Homo sapiens: one gene and its partners. The protein of the gene in region 2 interacts with the protein of the main gene of each other region in a pairwise test. Each region holds a gene or a part of one and is shown on either strand. Other genes may lie near its edges. The genes, in order: DNAJB6, CD209 and alpha-crystallin A2 chain.

Region 1 (3,748 bases), on a different chromosome or scaffold from region 2:
GTCACTTTAAAGAGTATTATAAGAGGGCACTTCATAACTTGGGCAGGTATTTTTAGTCATCCTGAACGTGTCGCTGTGGACTGGGTGTCACCGCGGGACCGCACAGACACCTTACTGTCGTCTGCTGTAAAGGTCAGCTTCTATATTGGTTAATGCTTACAGATATCTGTTGAGGAATAAGAGAATGTAATTAGCCTTTGTATTTGTGAGTTGACGTTTTGACGGGATTTTTACTTCTTAGTATTTATTTGCATCGAGGTTACACACTGGATTAACAGCGTTTTTTGGAAACCTTTTTAAAACTTTTTCATTTCCTCAGAAATGATTCTGTTCAAAATGTGGTTTGGTTAAATTTGTGCAGGACCCCACCTGGTGGTGAGAGGCGGGTAACTGCAGGCTCATTAGCGAGTAAGAGTAGGATCAGTGGCAGGATTTAGCAAATGGTGTAGTTCAAGGATGAATAGAATTTGAGAATATCAAACTCAAAAAAATGAGGTTAATGAGAAGAAGAGCAAAGTTGGTGAAAACAAGAATATGTTAGAAACGATGATGTAGGAATGGAAAAACGACAACGCCTACCTGCAGAAAAGTCAACTAGTAAAAATGTGATTTTTTTTTTTGTATTGATATTAATGAGGTGTTTTGTCAAACAAAACCCTTTATGTTTTTGTATGGACATAAATCACTGTTGACCTGTTTCATGTTCCTGGAGATATCCTACTTGAGAAGGAATATTGATTGATGATTAGTTGACTGACTGATTTACTTGAGATGGAGTCCTTGCTCTGTGTCCCAGGCTGGAGTGCAGTGGCGCGGTCTTGGCTCACTGCACTCCTGGGTTCAAGCCATTCTCCTGCTTCAGCCTGCCAGGTAGCTGGGATGACAGGCGCGTGTCACCACGCCTGGCTAATTTTTGTATTTTTAGTAGAGACGGTTTCACCATGTTGGTCAGGCTGGTCTCGAACACCTGACCTCAGGTGATCCCCTGCCTCCGCCTCCCAAAGTGCTGGGATTACAGGCGTGACCCACCGCACCTGGCTGTGTGTGTGTGTGTGTGTGTGTGTGTGTGTGTGCGCGCGCGCAGGTGGAATCACCCTGTGTGCCCAGGCTGGTCTCGAACTCCTGGCCTCAAGTGAGTCTTTCATCCCGGCCTGTCAAAGTGCTAGAATTACAAGTGTGAGCCAGGTGCCTGGCCAGATTTTAGATTTTTTTGTTGTTGTTGAGATGGAATCTCATATTGCCCAGGCTGGATGCAGTGGCGCCATCTCGGCTCACTGCAACCTCTGCCGCACGGGTTCAAGCGATTCTCCTGCCTCAGCCTCCCGAGTAGCTGTGATTACAGGCACCTGCCACTGCTCCCGACTGATTTTTGTATTTTTAGTAGAGACGGGGGTTTCACCATCTTGGCCAGGCTGGTCTTGAACTCTTGACCTCGTGATCCACCCGCCTCGGCCTCCCAAAGTGGTGGGATCACAGGTGTGAGCCACTGCGCCAGGCCATATTTTAGAATTCTTAAGCTGTGTTGCAAAATTACGTGTCTTTGGAAGGGTGATTTAGTTTACACTACATATGATTTTTCCCCCTTTGATATTTTTCTACTTACCTTTTGCCACCAAAGGCTTAAATTAAAAGTGTGTTTTATATTTGTGTTGTGCATATATACGTGTGTGCTCTAGTTGGTATGCTTATGAACTGTGTACTAATACTTATTCCTCTCTGCCACCTTGAGATGGCATGTACCACTTGGGTGGGCTTTGAATCTGAAGTTATTTGTGTTTATAGGAATGTCCAGGACACAGAGTGCTTAGAAAGTATTGATTGAATTAGATTCTTTCTAGTTTGTGTATGTCCTGATGACCTTCCTGTGATTAATAATGGAATCCAGAATTCAAGAAAGTTGGAAAAAATAAGTTTCAGCAGCACTGGAGACTGAGTACTTAACCGAGTGTTGCTTTGTTTATTTTAGAGTCTCACACTGTCACCCAGGCTGGAGTGCAGTGTCGCGATCTTGGCTCACCGCAACCTCCACCTCTGGGGTTCAAGCGATTCTCCTGCCTCAGCCTCCCTGGTAGCTGAGATTACAGGCGTTCGCCACTACACCTGGCTAATTGTTGTATATTTAGTAGAGAGTGGGTTTTGCCATGTTGGCCAGACTGGTTTGGAAGCAGGTGATCCACCTGCTTTGGCCTCCCAAAGTGCTGGGATTACAGGTGTGAAGCACCGAGCCTGGCCCTATTTTATTATAATAATAATTTTTTTTGAGACAGGGTCTCACTCTGTCACCCAGACTGGAGTGCAGTGGCGTGATCTCAGCTCACCCCAGCCTCCGCCTCCTAGTGTCAAGTGATTCTCCTACCTCAGGCTCCGGAGTAGCTGGGATTACAGGCACGTGCCACTATCCTGGCTAATTTTTTTTTTTTTTTTTTTTTTTTTTTGAGTTTCACTCTTGTTGCCCAGGCTGGAGTGCAGTGGTGCAATCTCAGCTCACTGCAACCTCTGCCTCCCAGGTTCAAGCGATTCTCCTGCCTCAGCCTCCCGAGTACATGGGATTACAGGCATGCACCACGACACCCAGCTAATTTTGTATTTTTAGTAGAGACAGGGTTTTGCCCTGTCCAACTCCTGACCTCAGGTCATCCGCCTGCCTTGGCCTCCCAAAGTGTTGGGATTACAGGCGTGAGCCAGCGTGCTGGCCTAACTTCTATATTTTTAGTAGAGATAGGGTTTCACCATGTTGGCCAGGCTGGTCTTGAACTTGTGACCTCAATCCACCTTCCTCGACCTTCCAAAGTGCTGGGATTACAGGTGTGAGCCACCAAGCCTGGCCTATTATGATTTTTTAATGAAAGGGAGTTAAGCTTGGAAGTATCTAATAGGTGATGAGTGCTAGTTGAAGAAATGGTCTCTGATCTTGAGTAATGGGGAAATAACTTCTGTGTTTGTTTCAGAAATATTTTAGGACATACTGGATAATGAAATAAGTAGGTGATGTGTGTGATAAGGAATGAAAATTCACTGCTGTGGGTTTTTTTTTTTCCTACCTGTCTGTACTTTTTTTGTTTTTGCTTTTTTTTTTTGTTGTTTGAGACCAAGTCTCACTCTGTCACTTAGGCTGGAGTGCAGCGGCGTGATCTTGGCTCACTGCAACCTTTGCCTCCCAGGCTCAAGCAATTCTTGTGCTTCAGCCTTCTTTCTGAGTAGCTGGGATTACAGATGTGCACCACCACACCCAGGTAATTTTTTTTTTTTTTTTAAGACAGAGTCTTGCTCTGTTGCTCAGGCAGGAGTGCAGTGGCACTATCTTGGCTCACTGCGCCTGCACCTCCCAGGTTCAAGCAATTCTCCTGCCTCAGGCTGCCGAGTAGCTGGGACTACAGGCGCTCACCACCATGCCTGGCTAATTTTTGTATTTTTAGTAGAGAAAGGGGTTTGCCATGTTGGCCGGGCTGGTCTTGAACACCTCAGGTGATCTGCGTGCCTCGGCCCTCCAAAGTGCTGGGATTACAGGCGTGAGCCACCTCACCTGGCCTCAGATGAATTTAGAAACCACTATTTTTTTTTGAGATGGAGTCTTGCTCTGTTGCCCCGGCTGGAGTGCTGTGGTGTGATCTCAGCTCACTGCAAACTCTCCCGGGTTCAAGCAGTTCTCCTGCCTCACCTGGAACTACAGGCGCCACCACGTCTGACTGGGTTTTGTATTTTTAGTAGAGACGGGGTTTCACCACGTTGGCCATGCTGTTCTCAAACT
Region 2 (3,748 bases):
TCTGGAGGAAGAAGTCCTGATGGGTCGTGTTTGCCAGTTTCCCTGGTGTAAATATTCCCATGGTGGCTGATTTCAAGCTGTCGTTGTGATGTCACTCAGTGCAGAGCTGAAAGGAGATGTGCATGACCAGCAGTTAGGAAATGGTTGCCTCTGGCTCCAACACATTAAGCCCAGTTATGAGTAAATGTGCATGGACATGCACAGAACATGTGAAATGGATAAACATGCAGTATTAGCAAGAGGGTGTGAGGAGAGGCCAGCTGTGCATGGATGTGTGCATGTCAGGACACATGTGCCGTGGGATACACATGTGAGAGGGACTCAGACACGAGGGGGCTCAGGACCTAGTATACCAGAAGGCTGTAGGTTAGCCTACAAGCAGAACTTCCTACCAAGAGATGGGGAGACAGAGCCTGGAAAATGGGAAGCAGAGCTCCCTCCTGACTCCTCCTGTACCCTCCAGAACTTCCTACAGCTGCAGTCTTCCAGAAGTAACCGCTTCACCTGGATGGGACTTTCAGATCTAAATCAGGAAGGCACGTGGCAATGGGTGGACGGCTCACCTCTGTTGCCCAGGTAGATCTCAGAAGGGGCACCCTATCCACTGGGGCTGGAATTGTGAAACTCTGATTTGAACTTTCCCTGGGGATCCTCCCCAACTCCCTGACACCCTAGACCCAAGAATCTGGAGGTTTTACTGAGTTGAGGAAGGTGGTCTTCATACCCACTTCCAGACAGCATGGCAGGTGCCTAGAATTCCACCAGCAGAGCTGCAGGAGGAGCCTGCCACCGGGGAGGTGTATTAAAATATAATGTATTAATAGGAAGTCTGAGGTCCAGTAAGGCCACCAGCTCAGGAGACACCTGCCATTGTGAATAGCTTCTCATATACACAGATCCCTAGAGAGAGGACACATCACAGCTGGGGGCCACCTGGGGAAGCACCAGGGTCTGTTATGAGTCAGAGTGGTGGGGAGGGGGGACTGTGGGCCAGAGCCTTTATTATGGTTTCTGTGGAAAGGAAAGGTCAAGGCCAGGTGAACAGGCTTAGGATTGGGAAGTGTGAAGCATTTTTTGGGCTCTGGGGCACAGGGGCTGCCCCTCGCTGTCTGACACCTGGCCTTGGGGTGATTAGTACAGGATAGTGGCTTGGAGTACAAGAGCCCAGTAAGGCAGGTCGCTGGAGGTGTGGACTCCAGACTGGTTGGCTTGTATTTGAAAATCACACACTCAATAGGTGGAGTCCACCCAAGGACAGGTTGTGAGAAGAGAGGCAGGAACTCAAGGCATCGTGAGTCAGGCATATTATCAGGTATGCAGAGGGATTCAAGTCCAGCATACACACGCAGGGCAGATGTTAAGGCATCAAGATGACAGAAGGTAGAAACACAGCTCATGTAGCTGGCGGGGACAGAGGCTCACATTCCGCATGGGCTTTGCAGCTTCAAGCAGTATTGGAACAGAGGAGAGCCCAACAACGTTGGGGAGGAAGACTGCGCGGAATTTAGTGGCAATGGCTGGAACGACGACAAATGTAATCTTGCCAAATTCTGGATCTGCAAAAAGTCCGCAGCCTCCTGCTCCAGGGATGAAGAACAGTTTCTTTCTCCAGCCCCTGCCACCCCAAACCCCCCTCCTGCGTAGCAGAACTTCACCCCCTTTTAAGCTACAGTTCCTTCTCTCCATCCTTCGACCTTCACAAAATCTCTGGGACTGTTCTTTGTCAGATTCTTCCTCCTTTAGAAGGCTGGGTCCCATTCTGTCCTTCTTGTCATGCCTCCAATTTCCCCTGGTGTAGAGCTTGTTTTTCTGGCCCATCCTTGGAGCTTTATGAGTGAGCTGGTGTGGGATGCCTTTGGGGGTGGACTTGTGTTCCAAGAATCCACTCTCTCTTCCTTTTGGAGATTAGGATATTTGGGTTGCCATGTGTAGCTGCTATGTCCCCTGGGGCGTTATCTTATACATGCAAACCTACCATCTGTTCAACTTCCACCTACCACCTCCTGCACCCCTTTGATCGGGGACTTACTGGTTGCAAGAGCTCATTTTGCAGGCTGGAAGCACCAGGGAATTAATTCCCCCAGTCAACCAATGGCACCCAGAGAGGGCATGGAGGCTCCACGCAACCCCTTCCACCCCCACATCTTCCTTTGTCTTATACATGGCTTCCATTTGGCTGTTTCTAAGTTGTATTCTTTATTTTATTATTATTATTACTATTTTTCGAGATGGAGTTTCACTCTTGTCGCTCAGGCTGGAGTGCCATGGCGCGATCTTGGCTCACTGCAACCTCTGCCTCCCGGGTTCAAGTGATTCTCCTGCCTCAGCCTCACGAGTAGCTGGAATTACAGGCAGGCGCCACCAGACCCGGCTAATTTTTTGTATTTTTAGTACAGATGGGGTTTCTCCGTGTTGGTCAGGCTGGTCTTGAACTCCCGACCTCAGATGATCTGCCCGCCTCGGCCTCCCAAAATTGCTGGGATTACAGGTGTGAGCCACCGCGCCTGGCCTATTATTTTTTGTAAGAATAAAACAGGTTTATTGGGATTTGGGACTCTGAACAGTTCTGTCTCTACTACCTGATCTCCTCCTACCACGACTTTGGGATCTAGAGGAGCTTTGGCTCCGGCTGTGACGGCTCCGGCCGTTCTCACTGCGGCTGCACCGGCCCCCGCTGCGGTCACTATTTCTTCCTCTGCTAGGTGAATTGTGCCTCTCCTGGCTCTTTGACATGTGCTAGTGAGATTTCTTCCTTTTCCTTTCGGATTCCCCATTTCTTTTGTAGGAATGGTCTGGACTAGGGTTCTCCTTCCCCGCAGCCTGTAGTATTCATCGTGGTGGCCCACCCTCTCTCTCCCCTTGGAGCTCTTGCCAAAGGAGGAGACAAGCAGAGGTCTCTATTGGATTTCTCAACACCTGAAGAAAGTTGCAGTGTTTTCCTCTTGGACATTGTTGTATTTCAAATAAACCACAAATCATCATTTTCCACCGAGCCACTGGGCAGAATTCACACTGAAGCTGTCGTCCTGCGTACATACCATCGTCCGTTAAACAGAGAAAGAGCTGCTTGGCATTCTTCTTCCGACTGGTACTGAACATATATACTTGCCCCTCAGGTGAGGTTCCAAGTTGCAACTGACCTTGAACTGAATCACTCTCCCCACGTTATTTTTTAATTACTATTTTTTTTTAAAGATGGGGTCTTGCTCTGTCGCCAGGCTGGAGTGCAGTGGCGCGATCTAGGCTCACTGCAACTTCCGCCTCCCGGGTTCAAGCGATTCTCCTGCCTCAGCCTCCCGAGTAGCTGGGACTCCACTAAAAGTACAAAAATTAGCTGGGCGTGCACCACTGCGCCCAGCTAATTCTTGTATTTTTGGTAGAGACGGGGTTTCAACATGTTGACCAGGATGGTCTCGATCTCTTGACCTCGTGATTCGCCCGCCGCGTCCTCCCAAAGTGCTGGGATTACAGGCCTGAGCCACCGCGCCCAGTCTCTCCCCACGTTCTTGAACTCGGGCAGCACATCCTCACAGAAATCTAGGAACTGTTGGTAGGTTTCTTCCTCGCTGTACTCCAGGCTTGCTTCGGAGTCATAGTCATCCCTCCTGCACTGCTCCTTTCCAAACACTGTAAACATGCTTTTAATAAGAAGGGTAGGACTGGATGTTGGGAAATCATGTGAACATCTATCTCCAAATCTGCAAGCTCCTGTTTTACTGTAGAAGGGACAATTAACTCCATCCTTCTC
Region 3 (3,748 bases), on a different chromosome or scaffold from region 2:
AAAAATACAAAATTAGCCAGGTGTGGTGGTGCATGCATGTAATCCCAGCTACTTGGGAGGCTGAGGCAGGAGGACCGCTTGAACCTGGCAGGCCGAAGTTGCAGTGAGCCGAGATCAGGCCATCCCTTACACTCCAGCCTGGGCAATGAGAGCGAAACTCCATCTCAAAAAAAAAAACGAAATGGACATTTTCAAGTTACTCACAAAACCAGTGAGACTTAACCAAGGTAAATTAGCCAGGTGTGGTGGCATGCACCTGTCATCCCAGCTACTCGGGAGGCTAAGGCAGGAGAATTGCTTCAACCCAGGAGACAGAGGTTGCAGTGAGCCAAGATCGCACCACTGCACTCCAGCTTGGGTGACACAGCGAGACTCCATCTCAAAAACAAAGATTTAACCAAGGTAATGGCATAACGAAGGTCATGACTTAACCAAGGCTGAACCAAGCATCTCCAAAGAAATGCAAAGCAGTCTTCCTAAGCGTCAGAACCACTCTAAAGACAGCTCAGAAAAAGAAATCTTGCTGCTCACACCTGTAATCCCAGCACTTTGGGAAGCTGAGGTGGGTGGATCACTTGACGTCAGGAGTTCGAGACCAGCCTGGCCAACATGGTGAAACCCCATCTCTACTAAAAACACAAAAATTAGCCAGGCGTGGTGGTGAGCACCTGTAATCCCACCTACTTGGGAGGCTGAGGCAGAAGAATTGACTGAACCTGAGAGGTGGAGGTTGCAGTGAGCTTAGACCATGCCATTGCACTCCAGCCTGGGTGACGAGAGCGAAACTCCATCTCAAAAAAAAAAAAAAAAAAAAAAGAAGGCCAGGCGCGGTGGCTCACACCTGTAATCCCAGCACTTTGGGAGGCCGAGGCAGGCAGATCACCTGAGGTCAGGAGTTCAAGACCAGCCTGGCCAACATGGTGAAACCCTGTCTGTACTAAAAATACAAAAAATTAGCTGGGCGTGGTGGTGGGCACCTATAATCCCAGCTACTCGGGAGGCTGAGGCAGGAGAACTGCTGGAACCTGGAAGGCGGAGGCTGCACTGAGCCGAGATCATGCCACTGCACTCCAGCATGGGCAACACAGCAAGACTCCGTCTCAAAAAAAAAAAAAAAAAACAGGACTGGAAATTGAACCCAGGCTGCAAACATAGCCTCATGTTTGTAGAGACTCATAGCCTCTGGCCCACAGGCTGGAGCACTGACAAACCCTGCAGGGGCTCCAGAGCAGGCAGTTTGAGCATTTAAAGGGTTTTGACTTGTTTCAGATCTGATCTCAGCTGAACTAATTCCCTGGATGTTAGCATTTTATTTTTTTAATTTCCCTCCCTCCTTCCCTCCCTTCCTTTCTCTTTTTCTTTTTCTTTTTGGCAGCATCTCGCTCTGTCGCCCAGGCTGGAGTGCAGTGGCACCATCTCAGCTTACTGCAACCTCCACCTACTGGGTTCAAGCGATTCTCCTGCCTCAGCCTCCCGAGTAGCTGGGAATACAGGTACATGCCACCACATGTGTTTTTAGTAGAGATGGGGTTTCACCATGTTGGCCAGACTGGTCTTGAACTCCTGACCTCATGTGATCCACCAGCCTTGGCCTCCCAAAGTGTTGGGATTACAGGCTTGAGCTAACATTTCTTTTCTGGCCTATTTCTTTTATTTTTTATTTTTTATTTTTGTTGTTGTTGTTGTTTTGGGTTTTTTTGAGACGCAGTTTCCTTCTTGTCGCCCAGGCTGGAGTGCGATAGCGCCGTCTCGGCTCACTGCGACCTCTGCCTCCCGGATTCAAGTGATTCTCCTGCCTCAGTCTCCCAAGTAGCTGGGATTACAGGAGCCCGCAGCCACTCCCCGCTAATCTTTTTTTATTTTTAGTAGAGACGGGTTTTCACCCTGTTGGCCAGGCTGGTCTCGAACTCCTGACCTCAGGTGATCTGCCCAATTTGGCCTCCCAAAGTGCTGGGATTACAGGTGTGAGCCACCGCACCCAGTCTGTTCCAAATTTAAATATACTTTCCCCTTTTTGAGAGAAGGAAATGTGTGCATTGTGGAATTCCAAAAACACTGCTTAAGAGATGTATGGGAGCTGAGGGAACAGGCAGAAAGAGATGAGTTTAGATCATCCCAGAGGCAGAAGGAGAAGCAGCAGCTGGAAACAAACAGGAGAAAGCCTCCATGGTCTTTTTGTTTGTTTGTTTTTGTTTTTGTTTTGAGACAGAGTCTCACTCTGTCACCCAGGCTGGAGTACAGTGGCGCCATCTTGGCTCACTGCAACCTCCGCTTCCTGGGTTTCATGTGATTCTCTGCCTCAGCCTCCCAAGTAGCTGGGATTACAGGCGCCCGCCACCATGCCCGGCTAATTTTTGTATTTTTAATAGAGATGAGGTTTCACCATCTTGGCCAGGCTGGTCTTGAACTCCTGACCTCGTGATCCACCCACCTTGGCCTCCCAAAGTGCTGGGATTACAGGTGTGAGCCACCTCACCCAGCCTGAAACTACTTCTAAATTTTAAAAAGAACTGTGGATGGCTGGGCGTGGTGGCTCACACCTGTAATCCCAGCACTTTGGGAGGCCAAGGCTGGTGGATCACCTGAGATCAGAAGTTCGAGACCAGCCTGGCCTACATGGTGAAACCCTGTCTCTACTAAAAACACAAAACATTAGCCAGGCATGGTGGTGGGTGTCTGTAATCCCAGCTACTGGGAGGCTGAGGCAGAAGAATCGCTTGAACCCGGGAGGGGGAGGTTGCAACAAGCTGAGATCGTGCCACTGCACTCTAGCCTGGGCAACAAGAATGAAACTCTGTCTCAAAAAAAAAAAAAAAAAAATTGCGAGGCAAGGTGGGGGATGCCTGTAATCCCAGCTCAGAAGAATCGTTTGAACCTGGGAGGCAGAGGTTGCAGTGAGCCAAGATCACGCCAATGCACTCCAGCCTGGGTAACAGAGCAAGACTCTGTCTCAAAACAAACAAACAAAAGAAATAGTTTCAGATAATCTTCTGTTTTCTTCTTGCAAAGAAATGACTTCATCAGAACTTCTTTTAGAAGCTTCTAAGTATCATTGAAAAATAGCTCTCTCAGTTTTTAAATTTTAGATGCAGATTTTTCCTATTGAGTGCATAAACTAGTTACTTTAAAGGCGCCCCATTTTAGCTATTATAGTCTGGGGTCTTCACGGGTTAAGTGAGACCATGTTTCTAGATACTGACAGAAGGTGGCACCATAAGCATTGTCCACGAATCCAGCTGCCGTCTCTGCAGATGCATGTCTGCTCTAGAAGCACAAGTGTCCATAATTTAGATTTTCCTTCTGAATGACCAAAAATGCCTAAGGGGAGGAATTTTGGTCACTAAAGAAGAAAATGGCCAAGCGCGGTGACTCACGCCTGTAATCCCAGCACTTTGGAAGGCCGAGGCAGGGGGATCACGAGGTCAGGAGTTCAAGATCAGCTTGGCCAAGATGGTGAAACCCCAACTCTACTAAAAATACAAAAAATTAGCAGGGCATGGTGGCAGGCGCCTCTAATCCCAGCTACTTAGAAGGCTGAGGCAGAGAACTGCCTGAACTGAGGAGGCAGAGGTTGCAGTGAGCCGAGATCATGCCACTGCACTCCAGCCTGGGCGACAGAGCGAGACTCTGTCTCAAAAAAAAAAAAAAAAAAAAAAAAAGAAGAAGAAGAAGAATGTTTAGATTTGTCAGTTGAACCAAGTTTCAGAATATGGCCAGTTTTAAAGATGACACTTTCTCCTTGACCAAA

Evidence for each region.
Region 1: the proteins of CD209 (region 2) and DNAJB6 interact in binary tests that used the Homo sapiens proteins (3 or more experiments, as listed by UniProt).
Region 3: the proteins of CD209 (region 2) and alpha-crystallin A2 chain interact in binary tests that used the Homo sapiens proteins (3 or more experiments, as listed by UniProt).

The regions. Positions count from the first base shown.
Region 1 is NC_000007.14:157,339,926-157,343,673, forward strand, and holds part of DNAJB6 (dnaJ homolog subfamily B member 6), read left to right. Parts: intron 1-3,748. UniProt on the Homo sapiens protein: Has a stimulatory effect on the ATPase activity of HSP70 in a dose-dependent and time-dependent manner and hence acts as a co-chaperone of HSP70. Plays an indispensable role in the organization of KRT8/KRT18 filaments.
Region 2 is NC_000019.10:7,740,935-7,744,682, reverse strand, and holds part of CD209 (CD209 antigen), read left to right. Parts: intron 1-463; coding exon 464-576; intron 577-1,442; coding exon 1,443-1,644; 3' UTR 1,645-3,748.
Region 3 is NC_000021.9:6,502,106-6,505,853, reverse strand, and holds part of alpha-crystallin A2 chain, read right to left. Parts: intron 1-3,748. UniProt on the Homo sapiens protein: Contributes to the transparency and refractive index of the lens. In its oxidized form (absence of intramolecular disulfide bond), acts as a chaperone, preventing aggregation of various proteins under a wide range of stress conditions.